2 linked regions of the Homo sapiens genome follow. The protein of the gene in region 1 interacts with the protein of each later gene in a pairwise test. Each region holds a gene or a part of one and is shown on either strand. Other genes may lie near its edges.

Region 1 (3,827 bases):
TATGGTAAGAGTAATAGCCACTCAACTGTTTTAAGGAGTAGAATAGGATGAGATCTGTCTTTTAAAACTACATATTTTAAAAATACATTGTTATGTGGAGACTCAGGTAAAAGCAGAAGTGAATGCAAGATGACCAGTTAGAAGGTTATTATTATATTATAGTTGTCTAAGAAGGAGAGGATAATGATGTGGGTAAGACAGGCCAACAGTGCAAGTGACAAGCGGATAGAATCAGGACATATTATGGAGTAGATATGACATGACCTGTTGAAAGGTTGGACAAAGAGGGATAAAGGAGAGATTAAGAATTATCCCTAAGTTTATGGCAGAATCAACTCAGGAAAGGTATCATTAACTAGACTAGGAACACTGAAGAGGATCAGGCTGGTGTACATGTTGAATCTGTGGTGCCCACCTCCTAGTACAGAAATATATAGTTGGGTACAAAAATCTGAAAACCAGACTTCATTCAAAATAAAAAATTTGGGAGTTATCCCAATATGGTAAATTAAGTCACAGCAAGACGATTATCTAGGGAGAAATGGCAGAGTGGGAAAAAAAAGATGGCCTTGAGAAACTCTAACACCTAGAGGTGAAGAAAAAGAGGATAATCTAGAAAAGGACTGAAGAAAAAGTCTGAGGTAGGAGAAAAAAAACAGAAGAAGGTGGCATCCCCAAATCCCAGTGAAGAAAGTTTCAAGGAGGGCTGAACTGTCAAACACTGTTAAGAGGTCAAGTAAAATAAGGAATTCTCTATTTTCAGTTTATAGGGAAACTGAAATGCATGCATCATTTAGAGGAAATAGTATAATCATTGGCAACATGAAAGCATCATTTTTTTAATTTAAGTTCTGGGATACATGTACAGGACATGCAGATTTGTTACATAGGTAAACGTGTGTCATAGTGGTTTGCTGCACCTATCAACTCAAACCCATCACCCAGGTATTAAGCCCTGCCTGCTTTAGCTGTTTACCCTGACAGAGCATCACTTTTATGCCATGTTTAAAGAAGCCTCTTATTCAAGCTTTTTCAAAGTGAAAATTAATTGGAGAATAAAAAAGGAGTGACTGGACTTTGTATTGCATGTCCAAAACAACTTACCTTTTCCACAAATACTATGTTTAGCAAATACTGACATACTTTTATAGGGAAAAAGTCATAATTTTCTGATGCATTGTTTTCTGCTTTTCTGTGTAGTAAAGGTTTGGGTACATATGACAGCCAATCTTCAAAACCCCCTATAAACTTACCCCTTTCTTATTTATACATGTTTTTGAAACTATGTAGGCATTAAGAAAAATATGGAAAGATACCCACAAAAGTTACTTGGCAGGAGGAATATATAAATAGAAAGGTCTTAGTAAGAGGAGGCAGGCAAAAACTGGAAAAAAAAGAGCAGTTAAAAAGTTATGACTTCACTTATATACATATATAGTTTATATATATTTTATTGTATATATAACATAAATTATGTGTCTTATTTACATAAAGAAATTAGATGAAAAGAATGCAGTTAATATATATAATACTAAGTTGCTTCATTAAGTGAAAAAGGCAAGATTCAAGGAATATTCATCTTTATTAAAGATAAACCATTTATGTTTGCATTAGCAAAGATAAAAGTGTGGAAGGATACATAAGAAGCTAACACTGATTCCTTCTACGAAACAGAACGAGAGAGTTTTGCCTTCATACATCTTTGAATTGTACTGTTTCACTTAACACATATTTGTCATTTTGAAAAATTAGAAGAAAATTACTTTTTTGATGTTTAAAAATACATACCTTGACCTTGCCATACTTTAGAAGGTATAACTAATATTTTGTCACAGGATGCAGAAGGCTGGATCCACCGCCAAACCAGAAAATCTGCACCACCTATTCTTCGTGTTTCCGTGCGAACTCTAGACTCATTAGCAGCAAGGAAGTCAACAGCTCTATCCCAGACTTTCTTCATTTTTTTCCTATCATGTGAACAAAATGGCAAATTTACTATCATCTTGGCTTGTCATCTTTTTGAAATATTAGTATCTGAGGTAATAGTTAACTCTAGCTGTTCTTACCACTACTCATGGAGTTTGTTCAAAGAAGATTTAGATGCCTATATCTCATCTCAGATTTTCTGAGTTTCAATTTCCAGAGCTAGAGCACAAACATCTGTATTTTTTTTCCCCAAAAGCTCCACTGGCTTTATGTGTTGCTAGGGTCAAGATGCTGCTTCAGGATATGGAATTATCTTTTATTTTCAAAAAGTTGCATTTTAGTTTTTACTTTAAAAGCTTCATTAATAATAAAGTTAGTACTTAAAAAACATTAGTAAAACACCAGCCACTGGCTGTCATCTATTTCTTTATCAAGATGAAATTAAAGGAAATAAGATGGAGACTAACAACAAAGAATCAAGAATGCCTAGGAATGAGAATGACTTAGAAATCCAGGTGTCACTCAAAATCAGGAGAATGGAAGAGAATTTAGAAAGAGAGTATAAAGTACAAAAACAAAGCAAAACCAAAAAAAACCTGTGCAGTAAGCAAGTCTAGTTGAGAAGGGTCACAGCTCTCAATATAATTTTCAATACTGCAGAAAGCACTTAAATTTTCTGATTTACTTGAACTCATAATGCTTTGAACACACCTGTCATGAGGCTGTATTAAGGAATCGCGTACATGTGGAATAGGCATGTAAGGTTGTAAATCTTTGTTTTCCTGGCAGGCTTCATTATGACTTCGTAAAACATCTAAAAATAAATAAAATTTACAAATGAATCAATCACTTGACATAATGTAGTTTAATCATGCAATGACTCTTCTAGAAATAGTTGAGATTCTTACAAATATCATACCTATAATCTTTACCACCATATCATACATCTGCCTTGTTTCCTCCTCTTCTTTTGTCCATCGATATTTCATGTAACGCAGAACGACACAAACCATCACTACACCTGTAATATTAATATACTTTGTATTTTAAAAATTGTGGTCAATATCATTCAATAATATTTCAGTGATTATTTTAACTGCCACAACGGAATGAACCTTCAAGACAGATGGCTGAATTAGCTATATAATTAAAACTACATAAAAAAATTTAATACTGAACATTTTCCAAAGATTCACTTTCTAGAAAAAAGCATTTCTTCCATTACACTGATAAGTGAACATTTAAATTCTAACTACTATTTAAAAATATATATATATAACTATGTTTCACAAACTTTTTTCCTTTGAAGCATAAAACGACTAGAAAAGTGAACCTCATGAGATTAAACATACTAAATCTTACTTTAAGTAAAATGAATTTTTCTTTTGTTGTTGTTGTTTTTGAGATAGGGTCTTACTCTGTCATCCAGGCTGGAGGGCAGTAGTGCAATCATGGCTAACTGCAGCCTCCAACTCCTGGGCTCAAGAAATCCTCCTACCTCAGCTTCCCAAGTAGCTGGGACTACAGGCACGTGCCACTATGCCTGTCTAATTTTAAAAATTTTTTTGTAGAGGTAGGGTCTATGCTTCCCAGGCTGGTCTTAAACTCCTGAGTGCAAGCAATCCTCCTGCCTCCCAAAGTGCTGGGATTACAGGTGTGAGCCACTAAAGCTGGCCAAAATGAATTATTTTTAAAGAAGAAAGAAAGAATGAAAAAACAACTCTCACCTAAATCCCTATTATCAATTAAAAAATGATAAAAATTTTAAATGTAGGTAAATTACATTTTAAAAACTAAATTTTAATAAACTTTATAACACTTTATTATTTAAAAATAAGCTCAATTTTTGTATTTTTCAATTCTACTTTCTAAAGTAGATTTCTATGTATATACTGACCACA
Region 2 (3,827 bases), on another chromosome or scaffold:
CAGTAAAGAACGTCTATATCCAAACTGGTAAGGAGAATTCAGCACAGTTGTTAGAAAAAAGGCAATGCTCTCTTAACCAAGAGCAACTGTAACAAAATGTAACTTTTAAAAGGATACAATAAAAACCAGTTATCTAGAAATAAATCTAGTAAGTGCAGGAGCTGTATGGAGAAACTTAAAAGTGCACTAAATAATATTATGCTCAAGAGCACAGTAGGCCAATCTTCCCCAAATGAAATCAACGAAATTCCAATAAATTCCCAAAGTGTTTTTCATAGGACTTAACAAGGTAATCCTAAAGTATATAATCTAGAAATCACAAAAACGTAATGTTGGATGAACATAAGTTGTACAAAGAAACTCCAATATTATGTAACATTTTTAAATATATAAAATATTACATATTGTCATGGACTCATACATATGTAATAACAGTATAAAAACATGCATGAGAATGATAAGCGTCAGATTCAGAACAGTGGTTACCAAAGGGAGCAGAATCAGAGGAGCAAAAACAGGGGTTCCAGTTTACACGTAATCTTTTATTTCTTAAAATGAGTAGGGGATACAGAGATGTTTGTTATACTACTGGTCTTTAAAATCTTTTTTTAAAATATGTCTTAAATATTCCACAAAAATACAGAATGCCTTTTATTTGAAAACCATGTTATTACATGATCTAGTTTAGTAATTCCTAAACACCAATCCAATAGCTACATCAGTAACACCTGAAGTACTTGTTAGAAACAAAGATTACCAGGCTATCCCAGGATCAGGATTTCTGGGAGGAGAGCCATGTGATTCTAATATACAGCCTTAGTAACCCAGGAACTATTAACAGCCAATCCATCAACAAAATTGGTCCCAATCGACAATGAGACATTTAAGTGCTTGAATATCTAATCACTTTCCAATGATCCAACTCTCTAGAATGTAGATTCTAACTTGAGGGCAAAACCGTATAAATTTTAAAATATATCCTTTACCATACCCTCCCAAAAGACTATACATGTAAAAACTGGGTATATTTTATAAAGTAATAGCATCAAATGATTCCATAGAAGGATATAATTCCTTCATATTCACCATAGGAAATATGCCACAGCAAAATTCCGCCAGAGATGATAAAAAGTGCTGTTCTTAAGTTCAGAATGGTTTAAGTCACTGGCAACTACCCTCATGATGTACTTCCCTTAAGCATATAGACAGCAATAATGCATTTCTTTCCTAATTTTCTTCCCTTAGAATACAATTCATAGCTAATTTTATCTAGAGAAATGCAGAGAACCATGTGAGACATAAAAAATAAATTTAGAAAGAAAACAATTTATTAAAAATTAGAGGTATTAGTACTGCAATGACAATTGTCATAGCCTGCTCCCAAGACATAATGTTAACTAGAGATGACTAAGCTGTTAAAATGTATGAAACACTCAGGGGCTTTCTCTCTTGCATTCACACAGACACACACACACACACACACACACACACACACACACACACACAGTTTCCCCAAATATTTTTAAATTACAACTAAAAACAAGCAAAGGGATTATTTTCATGTTCTAAACAACACAAATCTGGTACTGGGCACACAAAGCACATCAACATAAAATAACTCACTTACCAGGGCTTTCTACTCTCTTATAGTGGTAGGGATTGATGCAGACCTCCTTCTGCTTGGAACCAAAAGGAAACTCACAGCATTCCAGTGGTTTTAGTTCATGGTGGCTCTGAAGATCGGGCCAGCGCCACACACGGCAGTAAATGACATGAGGCAGTCCCTTCCGGTGGGAGACTTGCAGCCTGCCATCCAGAGAGCGGGGAATGGTGACACAGTTACTCGGTTGCCCTGGGCAGCTCAAGGCCTTTTCCAGTTCCTCCATGGCACCTTTCTTTTTCTTCAGTTTTTTCACCAAAGCATCAACAGCTTTCTCTGCCCATTTTTCTTCTTCATCGCCCTGTTTCCACCCAAGAAGTCTCTTCACAGCTGGACTTGTAAAGGAAAATAAACTTGTCACATTCATAATGACAGCACTAGTTATACTCCTTGGATATGGTGAAATAAAGCTGTCTCCAAATGCAAAAGGACAGCAGAAGAGATTTGTTTATTTACAGAGAAGTCTCTTTAACTTCTTAGTTTGAAGTCCAGAAGAGTAGAAATTACCATTCCTAGTGTTTAAAAAAGTAACCCAGTCAGCACCTACAAAACAAAAAAAGAATGGTTAGAATCATCTTTACCATACAACCACATTTATTAAGTAATCACCATGTGCTAGGTACTATTTTAAGTGCTTTTATGTAATACAGTATGCTGTGGACTGAATTGTGACCCCTAAAATTCATATGCGGAAGCCCTAACTCTCAGTATGACTATATTTGGAGATGGAGCCTCTAAGAAAGTAATTAAAGTTAAGTAAGGTCATCAGGGTGGGGCCCTAACCTGATAGGACTGGTGGTCTTAAGATTGCTATCTCCCTCCTCCAGCCTCTATGCACACACACTGAGGGTACTGCAAGAAGGTGATCATCTGCAAGCCAGGAAGAGAGCCCTCACCAGAGCCTGTATTGTCCAGAACCTTGATCTTGGACTTTCCAGACTCCAGAACAAAGAGAAAATCTATTTCTGTTATTTAAGCCACCCAGTCTATGATATTTTATTATGGCAACCAAAGCAGACTAATATATAGCATTTAATGCTTTTCACAATCCTTTGAGTTAGGTAATACAATTGCTGCCACTTTACAGATGAGTAAACTGAGAAGCAGTTTAAAAAGTAAGCCACTGTTAGCAAAAGCTCTGGGATAAAAGCAACAAAGTTAAAAAGCCCAAGTTCTCAAAAGATATTGTAATATTTTAGATTTAGATTCATTTATAACCTCTAAAAATATATTTCAAAACACCTCAATCAACAAAAACTGAAAGCAACAGGGAGAAAAAAATAGTCTAATATCTCTGTTTTTTTGGTTTGTTCTACAAATATTTCTTAGGCTAAAAGAAAATTCCTCTTATATAAATGTAGTAATATTTTAGGGTATTTCTTCAGTGAACAAGCCTGTGTCTATGGGCTACAGGACAAATAGGATAGGAAATACATCTCCTGCTTTAAAAATGTTGCTATTTATTGACATAAAAGGAATAAAGCACATGGACACATACTGTACCAAATTCTTTAGCCAAGTTGCCTCATTTAAACTGTTTACTCTTTAGCACATGAAAACATAAAATGTGAAAAAGGTTAAGGAGGTTAACTTTGTACAAACCCTGGCTAAACTGGAGTAGCACGTATCAGACCAACCTCCTTCCAAACAAACAAGCCAGAAAACAAACAAACAAAAGCCCAGCTTTTTAAAGGCATCAAAGAGGAACCAAGGCACTCAGGACTTGAGGGGGCCAAGATCCTGGAGAGAGGGGAAATGCAATGAAGTGAGCTGAATATTCGTCACCACTCTTTCCAGGGATTTGCCAATAGCTATGCTATGAGCAGCAAAAGGTCTAGGAGCCGAGCAGAAAGAGGTAACTAAGAGGCTAAAAACTAAGCAGAGCTTCTAGTAGCCTCATAGCGCTGAGGAACCCCAAAATAACAACACAGCAACAAATGGAGTTGAGGGCCTGCTGAGGAGAAACCCTGGTAAATAGTCTAGGCTTTCAATGGAAGCTCCTGGAGGAATATGCCCCAGTCTAAGGGCAAAAATGAAACGGATCAGTCTTTACAACCAATCTAGAATCATCTTAATCCTAGCCTTGGTCTAGGTGATGGGTATTGCTCTCTAACAGCTTGCCAGAAGAAAAACAAATTCTCTGTAGAGGAAGACAACATCAACCTTA

What was found.
Region 2: the proteins of LEMD3 (region 1) and SMAD1 interact in binary tests that used the Homo sapiens proteins (3 or more experiments, as listed by UniProt).

The regions. Positions count from the first base shown.
Region 1 is NC_000012.12:65,239,049-65,242,875, reverse strand, and holds part of LEMD3 (inner nuclear membrane protein Man1), read right to left. Parts: intron 2,948-3,827; coding exon 2,846-2,947; intron 2,741-2,845; coding exon 2,638-2,740; intron 1,968-2,637; coding exon 1,789-1,967; intron 1-1,788.
Region 2 is NC_000004.12:145,512,814-145,516,640, reverse strand, and holds part of SMAD1 (mothers against decapentaplegic homolog 1), read right to left. Parts: exon of another isoform or gene 3,159-3,827; intron 2,204-3,158; 5' UTR 2,028-2,203; coding exon 1,628-2,027; intron 1-1,627. UniProt on the Homo sapiens protein: Transcriptional modulator that plays a role in various cellular processes, including embryonic development, cell differentiation, and tissue homeostasis.